Homo sapiens: one gene and its partners. The protein of the gene in region 1 purifies or fractionates together with the protein of each later gene. This does not show direct contact. Each region holds a gene or a part of one and is shown in the gene's direction. Other genes may lie near its edges. The genes, in order: GRPEL2, FAM83G, NDUFAF5, CDV3 and LYRM7.

The links.
Region 2: the proteins of GRPEL2 (region 1) and FAM83G purify together in Homo sapiens (co-immunoprecipitation; one large-scale study listed by IntAct). This does not show direct contact.
Region 3: the proteins of GRPEL2 (region 1) and NDUFAF5 purify together in Homo sapiens (affinity purification with mass spectrometry; 3 studies listed by BioGRID and IntAct, with this or other methods). This does not show direct contact.
Region 4: the proteins of GRPEL2 (region 1) and CDV3 fractionate together in Homo sapiens (co-fractionation; one large-scale study listed by BioGRID). This does not show direct contact.
Region 5: the proteins of GRPEL2 (region 1) and LYRM7 purify together in Homo sapiens (affinity purification with mass spectrometry, with the first as the bait; one large-scale study listed by BioGRID). This does not show direct contact.

Annotation. Positions count from the first base shown.
Region 1 is NC_000005.10:149,351,156-149,355,655, forward strand, and holds the end of GRPEL2 (grpE protein homolog 2, mitochondrial precursor), read left to right. Parts: coding exon 1-127; 3' UTR 128-3,428; downstream 3,429-4,500. UniProt on the Homo sapiens protein: Essential component of the PAM complex, a complex required for the translocation of transit peptide-containing proteins from the inner membrane into the mitochondrial matrix in an ATP-dependent manner.
Region 2 is NC_000017.11:18,998,265-19,001,764, reverse strand, and holds part of FAM83G (protein FAM83G), read left to right. Parts: intron 1-3,500. UniProt on the Homo sapiens protein: Substrate for type I BMP receptor kinase involved in regulation of some target genes of the BMP signaling pathway. Also regulates the expression of several non-BMP target genes, suggesting a role in other signaling pathways.
Region 3 is NC_000020.11:13,794,470-13,799,176, forward strand, and holds part of NDUFAF5 (arginine-hydroxylase NDUFAF5, mitochondrial), read left to right. Parts: intron 1-368; coding exon 369-472; intron 473-3,991; coding exon 3,992-4,031; intron 4,032-4,707. UniProt on the Homo sapiens protein: Arginine hydroxylase that mediates hydroxylation of 'Arg-111' of NDUFS7 and is involved in the assembly of mitochondrial NADH:ubiquinone oxidoreductase complex (complex I, MT-ND1) at early stages. May also have methyltransferase activity.
Region 4 is NC_000003.12:133,576,053-133,580,759, forward strand, and holds part of CDV3 (protein CDV3 homolog), read left to right. Parts: intron 1-4,707.
Region 5 is NC_000005.10:131,176,862-131,181,568, forward strand, and holds part of LYRM7 (complex III assembly factor LYRM7), read left to right. Parts: intron 1-3,233; coding exon 3,234-3,306; intron 3,307-4,707.

The DNA of each region.
Region 1 (4,500 bases):
GCCAGCTGGTGTTGGGGTGCAGCCTGGCACCGTGGCATTAGTAAGACAAGATGGCTACAAACTTCATGGCCGCACCATTAGGCTTGCCCGAGTGGAAGTGGCAGTGGAGTCTCAGAGAAGACTGTGAAGAGGCCATCAGGAACTGGATGTTCTCCCAGAGCGCAGTCACCTATGTTTCTTTTATTTATTAAACTAGGTTTGTATTGTACATGAGGTACTTCATGTGATATGTTTTGGATTTAGTCATATTGGCTTTATTTCTAAGATATTCTATTGATTTAATGTGACCTGTTTGGTCTCATCAGAAGTCTTACCATTGGGCATTTGAACAGTGTGACAGGTGTTCCAATGGCCTTTATCAAAACATGTTTAGGAAAATTGGTACTGTGATAAATTTGAATCCAAAATCCTTTTAACTATGGGTTTTCAACTACATGTTTCTTCCTAGCGGTCTCTATAACAGGAATTGTGTAGTATCTTGTATTTTGTGGAAAAAGGAGATGGTAGGGATTGGTTCAACATTTGGGTACTTAGAGGATAAAGCTTCGTGGTCGTATAAATTTAGATCATTTGGATTGATTTTTATACACATAGATTTTCAGGACTTTACCTTTTGTTTTGTTTTTTTCCTTTTAGCCATCTTTTGTTCTTGTAATCCCAACTAGATAGGCTTTATGCTCACATCATTGTCCCATACCCACCCCTTTCTCATCCCCATTTGCAGGGGCTAAAGGTCTAGATGAGACTTGGAAGGCAAGGAGCATCGAAATTTGAGATACCCAGGACCCTTTCAAGCAAGAATGGCCAAAAAGCCTTGTGCTGTCTTTGCTCTTCAAATTATTTTCAGCCTCCTTGTCATATAATCATTTCAGGCAAACTGAGGCAACACTAACAGCTAATGACCCAGATGGCTCTATTTGGGTAATTTACCTACAACTTATTCCACCAGCCTTTACTCCTCTGCCCTTTTGTCAATTTTACCTTATAATCCTTTATTAAATGATGGGAGGTGGTGATCAGGACAAAAGTGTTAGGTTCCCATGATTTCTCATTTCATTTATTAATAGTTAATGCTGAATTTTTTTTTAAGTTTCCTCTGGCTCTATTTATGTTACTTTTTGCGATAAGAACACTTAACATAAGTATTCTCTCCTCTTGGCAATTTTTTTTTTTTTTCCTGTGTTGCCCAGGCTGACCTCCAACTCCTGGGCCCAAGCAATCCTGCCTCAGCCTGCCAAGTAGCTAGGACTACAGGCGTTCACCACTGCGCCCGCAAAGTTTTTTTGTTGTTTTTTTTTTTAAGTTGGTACTCACAAATCACTACCTCTGTTATATTGACAAGCTCTATTTCCTATTCTTTGTATCTGTTAAGTCACATCTGTGTAAACATTGAGCTCACCTTTTATATATTAACCTCTAGAATTAATGGGCCTATGTGGTTTTTTTTCAGTCTTATAGCTGGTGTTCTGTAAAAGATTTGTCCAATAAACGACTTAATGAATGATACATCAGTCAGATTTTAGGAAGGCAGTCAATTATGGATATTTTAATGTTGGAAGAGGCCTTAATGATCAAATCTCACCCTTTCTGCTTCTGAAGTATGAAAATCTAGTCTTTTTAGGACTGGACACAAGGAAAATAATCTCTAAACTATTGACTAAATTCCAGTGAGAGTATGAATGAAGAACAACTAGATATTAATGTCAATCATTTAAGATTAATGGGCATGCAATTAAGTCTCCATTTAAGATTAATGGGCATGCAATGAAGTCTCCAGCAGACAATCAGATGTTGTTGGATGTCTAGATTATATAGGTTTAGGTTGAAGTTATAAAATAAAATAAAATTCATTTTCCACTGGAACTCTATGACATTCAGTGGAGTGGTGGAAAGTTAACCTCTTATACATTATAGATAATTCTAAGACAGCACACAAACTTATCAATAAAGCCATCTCCTTGTGGGCCTTACCATCTTCATCAGATTTAGACCCTTAAAAAACAAGTAAATATGCACTTTTAAAATGCAATCAAAAGACTGGTGGTTAAGCTTGTAAAACCAGAACATCTTTTGGCATTCCACTAAGTATATATTGTAAATTTAATGAACAATCAAGGTTCACAATAGGAAGTTGTCTTTTTTTGCCTTCCATTCTGTGAGATTTGACAGATGGTGACAATAAGAAAATGAGCTGATTGTAATTACTCTCTGTGTGTTTTTTTATTGCTAGCTATCATTACCAGTTAGAATTAACATTAATTACAATTAACAATAATTTTAGGTATGGAATGTTATGATTACCTAAAGAGATGTCTCTACCTAATGAGCTCAAGTGATCCTCCCACCTCAGCCTACCAAGTAGCCAGGACCACAGGCAAGTGCACCACCATGACTGGCTAGTTTTGTTTTTTGGTTTTTGGTTTTTGGTTTTTGGTTTTTTTTTTTTGGTTGGTTGGTTGTTTTTTACAGGCGGGGTCTCACTATATTGTCCAGGCTAGAAGAATTTTCTAATGGTCTATTACACCTCCCGTTTTGGCAAGTAAATTCAGAATAATTTTAGGTTCTTTTGTTATTCAGTAGTTTTGCAGACTTAAAAGTGTAAATTTAGAATTAGAAGATGAAGCTATAGTAGTAAGAATCTCAAGCTGAAGGGCTTTGGGGAGCCAAAGCAGCATATTAGAGCATAGGCTTGAACTTAAATCTCAGCTCAGTCACCTGCAGGACTTTAGGCACCAGTGATTTCACCCTTCTGAGCCTGTTTCTTTATTCGTAAAATGATTATAATAATTCTTTCACAGCGTTGTGAGGATTAAGTGAAATGTGTTAAATGCCTACTACAGTAGGTGCTCAGATATTTATTTTTATTTTTTTATTATGCACATTGTTTTTCCTGCCTTTTTATGGCTGTCTAAAGTCTAGGGAAAAGGGAAGACTGGTTAATGATGAGTAGAAAAAACTTGTAAGCTAATCATTCACTGACTTATTTTCCTTCCATTTTCTGGTTTTTAAAATTAGCCACACCACAGGAAACCCACATTTTTAGATGGAAAGAGCAAGAAAATTGTGTCAGTGCTCTTAGTTATTTTCATCTTAATGGTATAGTGAAAAGACATTGACTTGAGATGATACTAAGGAAGCTTTGGCTCACTCTCACTTGAAGAGGGGATCTTGGTGTTGTAGTACTTGGACTGTACAAATGTTTTACTGACTTTTCTTACTGCTGTAAAGGAATCAGGCAGTTGGGTATTGATATGTTATTTGGTGCTCTCATTCATGGCAAAGGATTTGATAAATAAAAGTTCTTTAAACACTAAAGCAAAATCAAATGAGCAAAACTAAGGATGAAATGTAATATTCATCAGAACAAGGATCACTGAGAAAAAATATTCAGAAACAACTTTAATAAAACCTGAATTGAAATAACTGCAGCTCTGGTGTTTAGAGTCTTTGTCTGCCTATTCGTATTGTATATGGAACATTATGGTCACTTCATGACTGCTGACCTGCCTTGTTGATGCTCTGGAGAGGTACCTTGAGATCTCATAGCAGCATAGCCAAGTGGATGCACTGTGGGCTTTCCCCACCCTGCCTCCGTGTTGAAGTCTTGTCTGTTTTATTCCTCCTTGACTTGCCTCTTTCTGATTGCTACATATTTCTTAGATCTGGATTCCTATTTCTGCCTTTTTTTTTTTTTTTTTTTTTTGAGATGGAGTTTTGCTCTTGTTGCCCAGGCTAGAGTGCAATGGCGCGATCTCAGCTCAGCGCAACCTCCGCCTCCCAGGTTCAAGCAATTCTCCTGCCTCAGCCTCCCGAGTAGCTGGGATTACAGGCACCTGCCACCACGCCTAATTTTTTGTATTTTGAGTAGAGACAGTTTCACCACGTTGGCCAGGCTGGTCTTGAACTCCTGACTTCAGGCGATCCACCTGCCTCGGCTTCCCAAAGTGCTGGGCTCACAGGCCTGAGCCACTGTTCCCAGCCCTATTTCTGCCTTCTTTTCTGGCATTGACTTGTTTTCTTGGGTTCGCCTTTTGGTTCTAGGTGTCTTATTTCCTTTGACTACTGCTGACTATTCTCCTAACCAGATTACAGACACTTGGCCTTGTTCTGACCTTCAGCTTCCCCATGTCCTTCCCACCTTGTGACTGCCTGGCCTTGTCTTTACCTCTGCTTCTCAGCTAGCTTCCATATACCTAGACTCCTGGCTGAATGGCCCTCTGTTGGGCCAGCCTTCCCTGGGATTTGGTCTTGCGTTTTCATTATCTTTCCAATACTGTCTGTACACTGTAGCTCCATAAACCATGTGTCCCATATTCCCAGTGCTAGTCAGTGAGTATATTCTTATTCCTATCCACTCAGATGTCCATGCTCTCAAGTTCACTGTAGTTTTAAAACATGGCTCCAGAATTTCTTGACACCTTTGTTGAGTAGGGCCCATGTCCATTCTTGAGTTTCCTTGGAGCTTTGTGATTGCTTGACCAATAGAATACAGTGGAAGTG
Region 2 (3,500 bases), on another chromosome or scaffold:
GGACTTCACCTGCTGACCCCAGGTTCCTCCCTGAGTCTCTGGCTACAGCTGTGACCCAGCCACTCCGTACAGTCCCATGAGCCACCTGGAGCTTCCTTTGCTTCCCACAAAAGTCCCACAAGGTTATTAGTGTCACCTAAGGTGACATTGCCTTCCTTTGCTTCCCACAAGGTGATTGCTGTCACCTGTCTAAGGTGACATAGCCAGGAAGAAGCTGGTCTCCAGTTTGGGTGCCAGTCTGTCTACATGGCCCCATAGTGAGTGATGTCCTCCAGCCTCGGACAGGTGGGCCCTGCTTTCTGCTTTTCCAGCCCTCAGGATGGGGCACTCACTGCTGAAACTGCTCCCTACTCTCAGACCTCAGGGAGTCCTCAAGGGTCCCACAGTGGGGGCCTCAGAGGCAGTAGAGACTAAGCTCCTCATCTGACAGACAAGGATACTGAGGCACAGAGAAGGACAGGGATTTGTTCATGACTCCACAGCATTGTGGTGAGCCAAGCCCCTGCTTTCTGCCCTGGGCACTTCCTTCCCTGCCACATCTGTCCTGGGACCTGTGGCCCAGGCTTGTGTGGCATGTGTGGGCAGGGATAATAACAATAGCAAGTGTTGACTGAGTGCGAGGCGCTTTATAATCTCAGCTAGTGTTATCTGTCTCATTTTTCAGATGTAGAAACTGGTTAGTCGCTGCCCAAGGTCACCTAGCTAGTTCTCGGGTAGAGGGGTGGGGACCAGGCCTGTGTTTCCCTCAAACTCTAGGCTATCCCTTGTGCCCTGGCCCTGGCAGGACAGAGTGACAGGCAGGGGCTGGGAGGGGCAGCTCATCCAGGCCACTGCAGTCCTCCAGCTGTCCTGCCCCAGCTGCTTCCCAGGCTCACAGGGGCAGGGCCCGGACACTGACGGATGCTGACGGGGCGCTTTGTCTGCCTGCTTCCTGGGAGCGCTCCCTGCCTTATCTCTCCCCATGAATCACCTCTCGTGCCCATGCTTCCACCTCCCCTTCTCACTCTGGTATTGTGTAGGGAGAACTCTGCCTGCCCCCTGCCTAGGATGGGGATCCCTCTGCCTGGGCCGCCTTGCCGCACACTGGCCCCTTCCCACCGGGGGCTTTAGGCTGGGGCTGCTGGGGCTGAGTCAGGACAGCCCAGCCTTCCGCCTCCTCACTCACCTTACCTGTCGTCAGCACAACAGGCAGACCCTGGGGCAGGGAAGTGACGCAGCACTTAGGGGAGCGGCTGTGTTCCTGTCAGGACTGCTGTCAGTCCCCCCTGTTCCCAAATGACTAGAATGGAACTAGTGGACAGCAGGACCAGGAGCCAAGAGTCCGTGCTCTGCCTCTGCCTGACTGTGGGACCTGGAACAAGCCCCAGCTCCTCTCCAAGCCCCGGTCATCCCATCTGTAAAATGGGAACAGGTATTGAAGACTGTTAGGGGCCCCTTCAGCCCTGACACCTTGCTGCCCTGTGATCCTAGACTCCCCTGGGACAAGAGGCGGGTGGGTCCCAGGTCTCACTCTCAGCAGCTTGTGCCCTCCAGCCTCCCTCCAGCCCTAGTGGGCTCCTACTCCAAGATGGAAGGTCAACTGCCTGCCCCTCCCCTAGCCCCAGGAGCCATGATTTATCTGGGAAAAAACCTGCTGTGGGGTTCCAACTACATACCAGAGGACGGGCTTGTAAGATCACGCCTGGGAGGGGCGAGCCCCGGCCTCACTTGGCTGCAGCCTGAGAAGGCGTGAGGCTGGGCTGGGTTGGGGCTTCCTCAGCCAGAGCTGGATGTAGATGTTCTAGCTGGTTGCTCCTCCAGCAGATGCTGAGCCCCCCTCAACAGGACACAGCAGGGGGGCCTTAGCAGGATCCCTCACCAGCCCCAGGGTGAGGCCCCAGGGCAGGGACAGATCACACCTTCCTTATTTCACAGTTGAGGAAACTGAGGGCAGGTGAGGCGCCGGTGGCCAGGGCCAGAACACTGATCTCTGCATGCCAGGCCAGGGCTTGGGAACAGACCCAGAGAAATAAAGTCGAACCCAGGTTTCACGAAGCCTGATTCACCCCACATTTTTTCTGTCAGGCCCCCGCCTTCACACACTGAAGTCCTGGCCCACAGCTTGGCTCTGAGAGAATAGAAGCAGCTTAATGAGGTGCTTACTAAATGCCAGCCCCGCGCCAGGTGCTGAGCGGGCACTTTACCATGCTGTGTAATCCTCCCCACAACTCTGGAAAGTAGGTGTTGTCTCCATTGTGCAGATGAGGAAACTGAGGCTTGGTGGGGCTCGGAGATGGCAAATAACTGGCCTGAGGTCACAGAACTGATATCTGGAGGGACTGGGCCGAGACCCCCAGTCTGCAGGCCCTGAGCACCCTCCCATTCCCTGGAGAAGCAGTGGCACTGTTCCTTCTGAGCCCTACCCCTGCATGGGAGCACCAGAGCCTCACTGCTGGATCCTGTTGACTCAGGACAGTAAAAGCATTTTCTTTTTTTTTTTTTCTTCTTGAGACAAAGTCTTGCTCTGTCGCCCAGGCTGGAGTGCAGTGGCACGATCTCTGCTCACCGCAACCTCCGCCTCCAGGGTTCAAGCGATTCTCCTGCCTCAGCCTCCTGAGTAGCTGGAATTACAGGTGTGCGCCACCACGCCCAGCTAATTTTTGTATTTTTAATAGAAACGGGGTTTCACCGTATTGGTCAGGTGGGTCTCGAACTCCTGACCTTGTGATCCACCCGCCTCTGCCTCCCAAAGTGCTGGGATTACAGGCATGAGCCACCGTGCCTGGCAGTAAAAGCGTTTTCATGAGGCTCCTTGGCAGCTAAATACTGGGCTCTCTGGAGGAGGGCTGGGACGGGGACTCACAAGAACAGGGTGAGCTCTGTGGCCTGGGGACCAGGAGGAAGGCCACTCATTGCATCCTTTAGCTGGGCAGTGCCAGGACAGCTCCCCACACTGCCAGAGGCCACAGGTGGCCCAGTTGACACCTTGTGGGGCGCACAGCTGGCCCAGGCTCCCACCACAGGTCAGAGAGTGGGTGGGGAACCATCTGATAAAGTAATCCCAGGTGTTAACTCCTGTGCGCTCCAAAGGCTCCCTTCCCTTAATTAAGAGTTTCGAGGAGAGCCGGGAGCAGCCCTTCGAGGAAGGAGCTCTAAGGAGAGAGTGCCTGCCCGTCTGGGCACTCCAGTGGGACAGGCAGCTGCTCAGCCACTGGGCTGGCCTCCTTCCCACAACCCCAAGAGCCAGGGCCTGCCGTCATGTTCATATCACAGCTGGGGAAACTGAGGCTCAGAGTCGGCTGGGGCCTTCATAAGGTTACACCAAGGGTCTTAGGTGTGGCTGGACCTGGATTGGGTCTCCCTGGCTGGAGAGGGTCTCCCTGCAGCTGAGGGTCCTGGCCCCTGGGCCAGCAGAGAGTGCTGGTCCCACTTAGCCACTTGCATGCTGCAGGACCCTCGGCCTCAGTTTCTTCACTTGTAAAATGGGGATCAGGCCTTGTCTTGACGCAGTGATAGACAGG
Region 3 (4,707 bases), on another chromosome or scaffold:
TGGTTTCACCATGTTGGCCAGGCTGGTCTCGAACTCCTGACTTTCAGTGACTGCCCACCTTGGCATCCCAAAGTGCAGGGATTATAGGCGTGAGCCACCACGCCCAGCCAAACTAGCTTTCTGAGATTTGTTTTGGTGTGAGGTTGGTATCCTGTTTATGTTGTTTCAACTAGTTAGCCATTTTTTCTGGCTGATGTTAAGTCATTTAAGAAATGCTTTTTGGGTGCCTTCTCTGTGCCACCTTTGGGAAGGGGGGTAGAAACTGCCAAGTAAATATAACATTGACTTCAATTTAACAAACAGTGATTGTGTTAGTAATTGAGATTCTACATAAATGTGATTTTGATCTTTCGTTTTCTTAACATTAGAAAAATTCCTCAGAAACAGAAATACCTACTGTCAGCGTTTTAGCTGATGAAGAATTCCTTCCCTTCAAAGAAAATACATTTGACCTGGTGGTTAGCAGTTTAAGGTTGGTAATCCACTTTTTAAAAACCATATGTTATAAACAGATCATTCTTGCCATAAAGTTTTGCTATGAGGCCAGGAGCGGTGGCTCACGCCTGTAATGCTAGCACTTTGGGAGGCCGAGGCGAGTGAATCTCTTGAGGTCAGGAGTTTGAAACCAGCCTTGCCAACATGTTGAAACCCTGTCTTTACTAAAAATACAAAAAAGGTAGCTGGGCGTGGTGGCATGCATGAACTTCCTAAAGTTCATCTGTGATAGAAGGTTTTTCTCCCCAGTGCATCTTAATATTTTGGAATTGCTCTTGTTGGGAGCAGGAGTTTGAAAGAGCATATTGGCTCCTGTATTCAAATGTTAGAGCAATTCCAAAATAATAAGTTACATTGGGGAGAAAACCCTTCTATCACAGATGAGTTTAGCAAGTTGGGGGAAAAAAAAGTTGAGGCACTATATCATATTATCTCCACCAGAGAGCATAGAATATATTCTTTCAAACTCCTGCTCCCAACAATCATAACTCATTCTGGACAAATTCTGGACAAACTCATTCTGGACAAACTCAAACTAGGACAGCTAGTTTTCCTTTAGCCTTAATTCTTCTGGCCAGGTACAGTGGCTCTCACCAGCAATCCCAACACTTTGGGAGGCTGCAGTAACAGGACTGCTTGAACCCAGGAGTTCGAGACCAGCCTGGGCAACATAATGAAATGCCATCTCTACAAAAAATTAAAAAATTAGCTGGGCAAGGTGGCGCATGCCTGTAGTCCCAGCTACTTGGGAGGCTGAGGCAGGAGGATCACTTGAGCCTGGTAAGTTGAGGCTGCAGTGAGCCATGATCATGCCACTGCACTCTAGCGTGGGTGACAAAGCAAGACCCTGTCTCAAAATAATAATAATTCTGTACCAGAATGTAGTTCTCAAGATTACTCTTTTCCCTTTATGTTTTCTACTATCTTCCTCCACATATGTTACACAAACATGTAATGCAAGTATATATCAAATAGGTTATAGGATACAAGGCACTGAGCCAGATTTTTGGGTGAATACAAAAATGAATTAGGGATCCTGTCCTCAAATAACTCAGTCTAACAGAAAAAATATCTTTGTGGTATCTTCTTTCTCCTGTCTTATAGTCAAATAGATTTTCTTTCAGAAGTTCAGCAGGCTCTCCACGTCCAGTTCAACTCTTTCGATAGCTGTTTTTAGGGTGACCAGTCATCAAGGTGTGCCCAGGACTTTGCCACTTTTGGCCTGAAAGTCTTATGTTCTGGGAAAGCTGGTCACCCTTGATGTTTTCTTTCGTGAGTGTGTAATTCCTTCCCTGGTTTTTTAGATGTGCTGAACAAAGTTAGAAAACTACTCACATTCTGTCATGAAATGAAAAATATGCAGAGCCTTGGTCTATAAAGAACCCTGGGCAGGGAGTCAGAACCTGAGTTTTTATGTTAGCTCATCTGCTTGCTATTTGCAGGTGACTAATTCTGTTGCTTTCTGTTTTCCCATAAGTATGATAGAGTTTATAGTATGAGCTCCTTAGTTTTTAAAGTATCTAATACTTGTCGAAAAGCATTAGGAAAGATAAACATGAGCTTAACACAGTATGGTTTGAAATGGACATTCAGTTCTGTCCTGGAACTCAGCATAAGGGGAGGCAGTTATACCAGAAAAGTGTGACCGTACTCTAAGGAGACTGGGAATATGACTTTCGCTGTCACGCATGACTACACTCTAGGTGAGAGTAGGGTCAAAAGAAAATTCAAGGCCCGGGCACGGTGGCTCACGCCTATAATCCCAGCCCTTTGGGAGGCCGAGGCAGGCAGATCACTTGAGGCCAGGAGTTCAAGACCAACCTGGGCTACGTGGTGAAACCCTGTCTTTACTAAAAATACAAAAATTAGCTGCATGTCATGGCGCATGCCTGTAATTCCAGCTGCTCGAGAGGCTGAGGCATGAGAATTACTTGAACCTGGGAGGCAGAGGTTGCAGTGAGCCAAGATCGCGCCACTGCACTCCAGCCTGGGCAACAGCAAGACTCTGTCTCAAAAAAGGAAAAAATTTAAGAGATTAAGTTTCAGTGTATACAGCTCTGGTTTTTGTTTGTTTTTATCACCTTAAAAAATGGATGTACCACACACCTACTAGAATGGCCAAAATCCAGGACACTGACAACACTAAATGCGACAAGGATGTGGAGTTCATTATTGGTGGGAATGCGAAATGGTACAGGCACTTTGCAAGATAGGTTGGTTGTTTCCTACAAAACTAAACATACTCTTAGCGTACGATCCAGCGATTGCATGCTCCTTGGTGTTTACCCAAAGGAGATGAAAACTTACGTCCACGCAAAAACCTGCACACAAATGTTTATAGTAGCCTTATTCATAATTGCCAAAATTTGGAAGCAGCCAAGATGTCCTTCAGTAGGTGAATGGATAAACTTTGTTGTATCCAAACAACAGAATATTATTCAGCACTAAAAAGAAACTGTCAAGCCATTAAAATATTTGGAGGAAACTTAAATGCGTATTACTGAATGACAGAAGCTAATCTGAAAAGGCTACATAGTGTGTAATTCCAACTGTGACAATCTGGAAAAAGCAAACTCTGGAGACAGTGAAAAAGATTGGTGATTGCCAGGGGTTGTGTAGGGGAAGGATGAATAGGTGGAGCACAGAGGATTTTTAGGGCAGTAAAGCTACTCTATGATACTATTATAATATTGGATATATGACATTACACGTTTATCCAAACCCTTAGAATATACAACACCAAAAGTGAACCTTAATGTAAACTATGGACTTGGGGGATAATCACTTATCAGTATAGCTTCATCAGTTGTAACAAATATACACTCTGGAGATATTGATAATGGGGGAGGCTGTGCATGTGTGGGAATAGGAGTATGTAAAAAAATCTCTGGGTTTTCCTCTTAATTTTGCTGTAAACCTAAAACTGCTCCAAAAATAATTAAAAATAAAGTCTTAAAAATTGATTTTTTAAAAAATGGGATATTATTGGAAAACTCACAGATTCAAACTTTTGATGAGTTACACTGTTTGCCTTGAAAAAATTTAGATCTGCAGATAATTTTTTTCTAAGAAAGTCTGACTTAGAATAATACTATATTTCTGTAGCTTAATTGATTTAACTGATGAGCTTCTTTGAGCATTTTTACTACTTTTTGCAAATAAGGTCTCAGAATAGCACCGTTTAGATAAAATGCCTAAGTAGGAATGACTTTTACATAATTCAGTGATGAATAATTAGAAAATAATCATATCAGATTCTTTCAGTTACGCAAAGTGATATATTGACATGGGGAATTTTCTGGTGTGACACAAGGCAGGTTTTCCTCTAGGAATATTTATAATTTTAAAACCTGTATGAAAACGATCAGTGGATTTGGATATGCAGTTTTAAACTTCAAAATTAACACCTTTTTATGGGTTATCATTAACCTGGTGATAATTTTACTAATTAATTGTGCCAGTTAAGCTAAAACAAATCTGTATTCTCATATTTTAGTTTGCATTGGGTGAATGACCTTCCTAGAGCACTTGAGCAGGTAAGAAAACTTATGTTCATTCAACTATCTTGTGTTATTTTCTTTATTGTTAGAAATCTACAGATGTTTCTATTTTCACATACTATTTACTTGTAGGTCTGACAGTTGGGAAAGAAATCGGTGAAATCATCTGGTGCCATTTGGCATATTAGTAGTACATTGGGCAACTCTCCTTTCCCTGAGAATTTAAGAAATCTAATTGTAGAGATAAGTTTTAAATATTTATGAAAAGCTTAGGAACTGTGCAAAATAATATTGAAATCATAAGACATTCTCTATGTAGATTTCTTCTTACCCTTAGTTGCCCATAAACTTTTTGCAAGTAGGAACCTACTTATTTATATTTGTATTTTCTCCATGCCTTATACTCAGAGAGTGCTAGGTAAGTTTTTATCGATTGACACGTATCAATAGACAGGTGAGAGGCAGGTAAAAAGTATGTGTTCAAAGGAGAGAACAAGATCCCTGTGGCTTGACATGGCCTAGAAAAGCTTCAAGAGGAAAGTACTTGAGCAGGGCCTTAGAGGGTAGGTAAAGTTTGGATTGGGAAGGCATTCTAAGAAGGCAGAATCACAGGATAGGTGGAGAGGCACAAGAGCTTCATCAGCATTAAGGAACAAAAAGGAAACCTGTTTGGAGGACTAGTATAGTGCTGGGAAGTGAGGTGTGATGTATT
Region 4 (4,707 bases), on another chromosome or scaffold:
TTTTGACTTCTCTGGATGTTAGTATCTATAGCTTTAGATAACTTACTCAAAAAGCAGGGTTAATATTATTGACATTTGTTGAACACCTACCACAGCTAGGCATTAATGTCCTACTGTGAAAACATCATTTTGTGAGCTTAACCAAAGTGAAACCCCCAGATTGATAATGGGAAACTTTCAGGAACGATGGCTTCTCCACTCTTGAGATTTCTTTGTAGTGGTGTTGAGTAGAAGTGATTAGACTTGAGTTTGATTCCCAACCACTTGTTGGCTTCCTTAATGTGTCTTTCTCTTTTCTGTCTCCTGGGGCTTGACCTGTAAATAATGGGGAGGAGGGAATGTGAGGTTCTTACCATTTGGTGTTGTGGAACTGCCTGTGTGTGTGGCTCCGGTTCTGTTGTAAAGTTTGGCTCTTCTTAAGTCTTTTCTTTCCTAAGTGACTGCAGGTTCTTGAAAACGTGAGTGACTGGAAGAATAGTGTTTGGCCATGTTGAACTTGGCAAAATAGCACTTTTCTGAAGATAAAATTTTGGTTTCAAGTTCACTGAGGATTAGAAATTGATTTTGTTAAACTATGGAGATTATTTAAACAGAACCTGTGTTTTTCTGTTACTGACTATAAATTACATGTTCATCTTCAGGGTTATTTTGATCTTGATCTATTTTGGTTACTTTTGAGATAGTGAAAAGTGTCTTAAATAACTTACATACTTCACCCTTGCCAGGGATATAAGTAAGTATCAGCTAGTACAAGCATTTAAGTTCTGTTCAACCTGAAGGTAGACTAGCTTTTTTTTTTTTTTTTTTTTTTTGAGACGAAGTTTCCCTCTTGTTGCCCAGGCTGGAGTGCAGTGGCAAAATCTCGGCTCACTGCAACCTCCGCCTTCTGGTTTCAAGCGATTCTTCTGCCTCAGCCTCCCGAGTAGCTGGGATTACAGGCGCCCGCCACCACACCTGGCTAATTCTTGTATTTTTAGTAGAGACGGAGTTTCATCATGTTGGTCAGGCTGGTTTTGAACTCCTGACCTCGTGATCCGCCCGCCTCAGCCTCCCAAAGTGCTGGGATTACAGGTGTGAGCCACAGCACCCGGCCTAGACTAGCTTTTATATTGTTTTTTTTGTTTTCTTAGCATCTAGTCATTGGCCCTAAGTGGCCATCCTAGTAGAGGTATTCCACTAACCTGCAACACTGAGAAACACTCCTTCCCATATGTTCTTCACTCAGATCCACCAGTCTCTGCTACATGTGCTTTATCTTTTTCTATTTCTCGGTATACTGAGAGCTGCAGATGTCACATTCAGTCTTTTTTTCTTTTTTTTTTTTTGAGACAGAGTTTCGCTCTTGTTGCACAGGCTGGAGTGCAATGGTGCGATCTCAGCTCACCGCAACCTCAGCCTCCCGGGTTCAAGCGATTCTCCTGCCTCAGCCTTCCGAGTAGCTGGGATTACAGGCATGTGTCACCACGCCTGGCTAATTTTGTGTTTTTAGTAGAGACGGGGTTTCTCCATGTTGTTCAGGCTGGTCTCAAACTCCCGACCTCGGGTGATCCACCCACCTCGGCCTTCCAAAGTGCTGGGATCACAGGCATGAGCCTCTGAGCCCAGCCAGATGTCACATACAATCTTAAAGTTCTTGACCCTGGTCCTTATAGTAGTTAGCATATTAGTTCTTTACCTGTACATTTGAAAGGGGAAATTTTTCATTAGCAGCAAACGTATTATATATTAAGATCCTATTTCACATTTACCAACCAGCTCAAGATTTAAGTACCAAGGTACTTAATGTGCCCAGTTTTGTGTCTGAATTAACAGATCTTATTCAAGGTCATGCTGTTATAGACAGATTCTTGAGAGGGAAGCCATTGAGGTGGTTATAAAGGAGGCTGTCATTTGAGTTAGATCCTTGGTTGTTTGTAGGCCCTGTAGGCCTCTTTCATCTCTATTTTTTCATTTTTTTGAGACAGTCTCACTTTGTCACCCAGGTTGGAATGCAGTGGCATGATCATAGCTCATTGTAGTCTTGAACTCCTGGGCTCAAGTGATCCTCCCACCTCAGCCTCCCGAGTAGCTGGGACTACAGGTGTGAGTTGCCACCCCTGACTAATCTTACTTTTTTTTTCTGTAGATGAGGTCTATTTTACCTAGGCTGGTCTCAAAACTCCTGGCCGCAAGTGATCTCAAAGCAAAGGAATCACACGCATGAGCTGCTAGGCCCAGCCACTTCCATCTTTAAAGTGGATTTTTGGGAGAATGTTAGAAAGATTTAATTCTTGAAGGTATACACTGTTGAGCATTTGTCACGTTTCAGTAAATAATTGAGTTCTTGGAGCCCAGTGGTTTTCTAGAAACTTTGGTGAGAAATCTAGACTTAAACCTTTTAGGTAGAGCTGGTTACATTATCCAAGGTGGATTTATTCTAGCAAATACTTATGTGACTACTCTGCTAGACACTGAGGTTCTCTGGTTGTAGAAATAAGTCATGCTGTAATAGACAACAGTAGATAATTTCAAAGAGATGTGCATGGTGCTCTGGGGCAGAGGAGAGACATTTCATCATCCATGAAGGGGTCAGGAAAGATTCTTTGGATGAGGTGCAGTGCCATTTTAAGCCTCCAGGCCAGGCATAGCTGATCAGGCCATGTGTATCTCCCCATTTTACTGTTGCAGCAATGCTAGGTATAATAGGGACAAACCTGTGGAGATGCCCGGTATTCCAGCAGCTCAATCCAGTCTGATTTTTGTTTTAGCTGCTTCCCCCTAGTGTTGGGGAAGGGGAGTTAGGATGTATAAATTCTCATGTCTCTTGAGGTAAAGAGATAAGGCTGTTCTATTCTTTATAAATATACTGCTGCAGGATGTGTGATCCTATCAGCCTTACTAAAGAAAATGCATTTCTCAAATCTTAGAGAATATTTTTGCATCATACCTTAGAGCTATAAAGGGGATAAAATGAATTAAAAGGTAATGTGAAATAATAGAGCCTCTAGAATCCCACACTATTTTGGCTCTGCTACTTTGTAGCCCTGGGGAAGGTACTTATGTTTCCTCATACATACATACAGTGGGTCTCTTGGCTGCCTTAGTGTTACTGTGAGGTTTAACTTTGTACAGTGGGGTGGAATGCTGCCTGCTGTAGTAGATATTCAGTAAGTCTCCCTTTTGTAGCATCATTATTCTCCTCACCTTACCAGTAGTGCCTTACAGACTTACACATATTTAAGACCGTATATGTGGAATTGTGATGAATTTACAGCAGTATTGTAGTGTTTGTTTATAAAATTTAGCTGATGGGAAGCTATATATTATATTTGGGTCAAACACTGAATTTCAGCCTGTCTCCCATGGAAATAACCGTTTGGAACGTGTTTCTTGTTCTGCTATGACATTTGGAGAGTTGATACTTTCTGAAATATGTAAAGATGAAAAAGTAATAAAATATGTAAATCATTTCTACCCTGCTAACTGGCATTTAGGCAAGCCTCTAAGCATCTCTGGGCTTCAATTCCTTCAATTGTTGGATGAAGAGTGTTTTTGGTTTGTTCGTTCTTTTTTTTTTTTGATAGAGTTTTTGCTTTTGTTACCCAGGCTGGGGTGCAATGGCGCAATCTCCGCTCACTGCAACCTCCACCTCCCAAGTTCAAGCGATTCTCCTGCCTCAGCCTCCCAAGTAGCTGGGATTAGAGGCATGTGCCACCACGCCTAGCTAATTTTTGTATTTTTAGTAGAGACAGTGTTTGACCATGTTGGTCAGGGTGGTCTCGAACTCCTGACCTCCAGTGATCTGCCCGCCTCTGCCTCCCAAGATGCTGGGATTACAGGCATGAGCCACTGCGCCCGGCTGATAAAGAGTCTTGACTAGACAATTTCCACATGTTTAGTTTAGCTAGTATTTCAGAATCTTAACCCAAAATACTTATTTATTTTTATTATTATTATACTTTAAGTTCTAGGGTACATGTACACAACGTGCAGGTTTGTTACATAGGTATATATGTGCCATGGTGGTTTGCTGCACCCATCAACTTGTCATTTACATTAGGTATTTCTCCTAACGCTATCCCTCCCCCAGTCCCCCACCCCCCAACAGGCCCTGGTGTGTGATGTTCCCCTCCCTGTGTCCATTTGTTCTCATTGTTCAACTCCCACTTGTGAGTGAGAACATGCAGTGTTTGGTTTTCTGTCCTTGTGATATTTTGCTGAGAATGATGGTTTCCAGCTTTATCCATGTCCCTGCAAAGGACATGAGCTCATCCATTTTTATGGCTGCATAGTATTCCTTGGGGTATATGTGCAACGTTTTCTTTATCCAGTCTATTATTAATGTACATTTGGAAAAACCCAAAATATTTATTTAAAAAAATTTCTTTTGGCCGGGCACAGTGGCTCACGCCTGTAATCTCAGTACTCTGGGAGGCTGAGGCAGGTGGATTACTTGAGGTCAGGAGTTCGAGACCAGCCTGGCCAACATGGTGAAACCCCGTCTCTACTAAATACAAAAAATTAGCTGGGCATGATGGCGCATGCCTGTAATCCCAGTTACTTGGTGGGCTGAGATAGAAGAATTGCTTGAACCCGGGAGGCAGAGGTTGCAGTGAGCCAAGATCAGGCCATTGCACTCCAGTCTGGGCAACAGGAGTGAAACTCCATCTCAAAAAAAAAAAATAGAGACAGAGTCTCACTGTGTTGCTATATTGCTCAAGCTGGTTT
Region 5 (4,707 bases), about 18 Mb from region 1:
CCAGCAGCTGCTGCAAAGGACATGATTTCATTCTTTTTTAGTATTCTATGATGTATATATACACCACATTTTCTCATTTGTGTCCTATAAAGCAAACAGCTGCCCTCACAGTTCTACTAGCACCTAGTACTTTAACATCTTTGATGTTATTATTGCTATAAAAATTACCCACAGCTGAGCCCTTTAAGTACATTATATGATTGTCTTTTTTCCCATTTCTTCATCTTTAAATTAATAACTGCCTTTTAAAAATTATTACTTTTTAAAAATATCCTTTAATAGATATCCTAGATATCTGTTCCCAAATTCTAGGCAAAACCAGTCTACCAGTTTCATTTTTCCTTGCAATAACTTTCCTGGAGCAATTCAGTCTTTTGCTATAGTCCTGCCTAGTTGCTTTCTAGTCTGGCTGCACAAATGTTGACTAGCATTTGTCCTTCCCCATGGTCTTTGCCTCTCCCATGTTAGACTACCTGTCTCCTGGGTTCCCATGTCTTTTCCTTTTGTGATTCATTTCCTTATTTTGGTGGAGGATATTCTTCTGTAGCTTTCCAATAAAGTGTGTATGACAGATAAGAGACTTTGCATTTCTGAAAATATGTATTTGCCCTTGTCTTTGAGTGATAGTTTGAGTATCTATGGTGTTCTAAAGCAGACATTTTTTCAAAACTTGAATATGTTATTCCATTGTCTTCTTACAGTGGTGCTATTTAGAAATCAGGTACCATTCTGATTTTTTCCATCCTTTACATGTGAAATGTTGATTCTCTGAGATTGTTCTCATTATCAGCATTGCACTGAACTTAACATCATGCTGTGCTGTGTTATGAGTTTTATGTTGGGCACTTGGTGGAACCCTTTCTATCTTGTAATTCGTGTGCCTTACTTGGTGAAATTTTTTTTCTTCCCTTTTACCCAAATATTAAGTGAAAATTTTAAAATTTCTTCCCTCCCTTTTCTCTTTTCTCTCTTGTTGGCCCTTCTGCTAATCTAGCTGTTGGGCCTTCTCCCTTAATTTTCTTATCTTTCCTCTCCTCAATTTCTGTTTCTGAACTTTTATTCTACATTCTGGGCAATTTTTCTCAACTTAATCCTTACTTTCACCTGTTTGATAGCCAAGAGCTTTTGGGAGTTTTTGGAATGTTCCTTTTTAAATTTACTGTAGCTTTTCATTGATGTTATTCCATCTCTGCGATAACATGTTTCTGAGGAAGTTTTTTATGGCAGCTTGGTTTTTATTTTTAAATTTTTTTGCTCTGTTTCTTATTTCTGTTTTCATGTCTGCCTTTGATGTTATAGGTTTTCTAATATACGTAAAACACTTAAAATGGTGTCTAGCACACAGTATGCTTAGTAAATGTTAGACAGTATTTGCAGAACAGACTGGAGGACAGGAGGGTGTGGTGGCAAAGTGACAAACCTTTGTAAGTAGTCTAAGAGATGGGGAGTGCCTGAACATAAGTGATTTTGTTGAGAGAGGATAAAAGAAAGATTACAGAGACATTTCTAAAGTTTCCACGACAAGAGTAAGGTATAATAAAAGGATGACCTACTGATTTCTGGCTTCAGAAACTTGGTGGCCTCCAATAAGTAAAATAGAGAAGAGTGGAGGAAGAGCAATATTGAGAGAACAATATTGAGTACCTTTTTGGACTTGAGAAGTGTGAAGTGACCTCAGCATATCACTAAAGCCTCTTCACAATCTGTCTTTTACCAAAATGCCAGGCTCTTTTCTCTCTTTTTATTTTTTTCAATACAGACTCAGAATATTCATAAGTCTCAACATTTCACTTATCTTTTATGAAATAGCAATTAAAAGGGCCAGACGTAGTGGCTCACACCTGTAATCCCAGCACTTTGGGAGGCCAAGTCAGCGGACCACGAGGTCAGGAGTTTGAAACCAGCCCAGCCAACATGGTGAAACCCCGTGTCTACTAAAGATAACAAAAAATTAGCTGGGCGTGGTGGCACACGCCTGTAATCTCAGCTACTTGGGAGGCTGAGGCAGGAGAATCGCTTGAACTCGGGAGGTGGAGGTTGCAGTGAGCCGAGATTGTGTCATTGCACTCCAGCCTGGGTGACAAGGTGAGACTCCGTCTCAAAAAAAAAAAAAAAAAAAAAAAGGGAATAGCAATTAAATTTGTCTAAATTGTTTAAAACATCTTCCTTCTGTGGCCTCTTTTAAGATGCAATAAATTCATAATTTTGCATATGTGTGTGTATGATATTGAGCAGATTAAAACTTCAATAGGTTAAGAAAAATGAGAACAGATACATACCAGACTGGTAAAGTAGCAGACTGGTTTTTAGCATGAGGATTATTAACTTTTTAACCATCCTTATATTGTTTTATTTATTTCAAAGAACTTTGTATTATTTTTGTAAATAAGGCTAAAAATGTTTTTAATGTAGAGATAAATAATCAAAGGAAAGTTATTTTGGCAAGTCCTGGTTTTCACCAACTATTTTTAAAAATAGTCTATGAAACAAACAGAAAAGGAATACTGTTTAATCCTTATAATACGATTTGTGTGAAATGTGAAATGTTTTCCTTTTGAGGTCTGAATTCTGATTTTCTTTTTCTTTTTCTTTTCTTTTTTTTTTTTTTTTTCTTTTTTTTTTTTTGAGACAGGGTCTTGCTCTGTCACCCAGGCTGGAGTGTAGTAGTGCAGTCAGAGCTCATTGTAGCCTCAACTTCCTAGACTCAAGCAATCCTCCCACTTCAGCCGCCCAAGTAGCTAGGACCACAGGTGCACACCACCATGGCCTGACTAATTTTAAAAAAATATTTTGGCCGGGTGCAGTGGCTCACTCATGTAATCCTAGCACTTTGGGAGGCCAAGGCGGGTGGATCACCTGAGGTCAGGAGCTCAAGACCAGCCTGGACAACATGGTGAAACCTTGTCTCTACTAAAAATACAAAAATTAGCCAGGCTTGGTGGCAGGTGCCTGTAATCCCAGCTACTCGGGAGGCTGAGGCAGGAGAATTGCTTGAACCCAGGAGGCGGAGGTTGTGGTGAGCCAAGATCACACCACTGCACTCCAGCCTGGGTGACAGAGTGAGACTGCAAGTCAAAAAAAAATTTTTTTTTTGTAGAGATGGGGGTCTCACCATATCGCCCAGGGTCTCGAACTCCTGGGCTAAAGCGATCCTGCTACCTCAACTTCCCAAAGTGCTGGGATTACAGGCATGAGCCACTGTGCCCAACCTTGAATTCTGATTTTCTTAACAGGTTTTACAGCTCTTTAAAACACTGCACAGGACCAGACAACAAGTTTTTAAAAATGATGCCAGAGCATTAGAAGGTAAGTATGTTCTTTACCCCTTTGGAGCCAGTCTACTTTTTAGATAACTACTAATCTCTCTGAGAAACCCTGTGTGGTCAAGACCCATTTTAGGGAATGACCTTCACTACCTCTCTCTGATATCTTTTATAAAGATTAGCTTATATTACACTTATTTGAGAAATATCTACTTAAAGAAAAATTTTTAAAGATCAAGTCTTCATAAAGAGTTGGTCAAAAAAAAAGGCGAGGGACCAGAATTTCAGTGTTTATCATTGCTTGCCTTATATTCAAGCCATTGAACTTTCTGTTACATAATCAAATTTTCACAGTCTCTAGGACCAGATATTACCATGTTGTTAATGTCTTATATCAGTCTAAAAGAGCAGCTGTGAAAGAGAATCCATCCCAAATGATTCTAAATTCAGTATCTCCCTGTTTTAAGTAGTTTCTATCTTATCTGGAAGTCACAGGCTCTGAAACTTAGGTTCTGTGTTATTCATGTTCAGTTCCACTCCTCATACATTTATGAACCTCCTTAAGAGTGCACCTAGGTAAAGTGTCCCCACTGTTTCCAGGGATTTAAGTTTTTGTAACTCATCAAAAATAATTTCTGAACAAATAAGATATATGTATTGTATTATATGTACTTTACATGAATTCCTGATTTAATTCTTGTAACATTTCTGTAAGATAGTTGCTATTATAATTCCTATTTTTACAAATGAGAAAATTGACAAAATGTGAAAATATCTGTCCCACATCATACTGAGTAAAAGGTGGACCTGGGATTTAGTCTAAGCAGTCTGATTCAAAAGTCCAAACTCTAAACCACCTTACGTATTGAAATATATGCAACATAGGCTGGGCTCAGTGGCTCACTCCTGTAATCCCAGCACTTTGGGAGGCAGAGGCAGGCAAATTACTTGAGGTCAGGAGTTAGAGACCAGCCTGGCCAACATGGTGAAACCCCACCTCTACTAAAAATACAAAAATTAGCCGGGCATGGTGGCACACACCTGTAATCCCTTGAGGGAGGAGAATTGCTTGAACCCAGAGGCGGAGGTTGCAGTGAGCCGAGATCATGCCACTGCACTCCAGCCTGGGCGACAAAGCAAGACTCCATCTGAAAAAAAAAAAAAAAAAAAAAAAAAAAATATATATATATATACACACACACACACATATATATAACATATATGTTATATATATATTAACATATATATGTATATATAATATATACATATATATTATATATACATATATATGTTTATATATATATAACATATATATGTATATATATATAAAACATATATATGTATATATATATAACATATATATGTATATATACACACACACAACATAGAAGGAAGTTTTTATGGTAATTATCAACATGGAATATTTTTGTTGCTTTAAATTTTT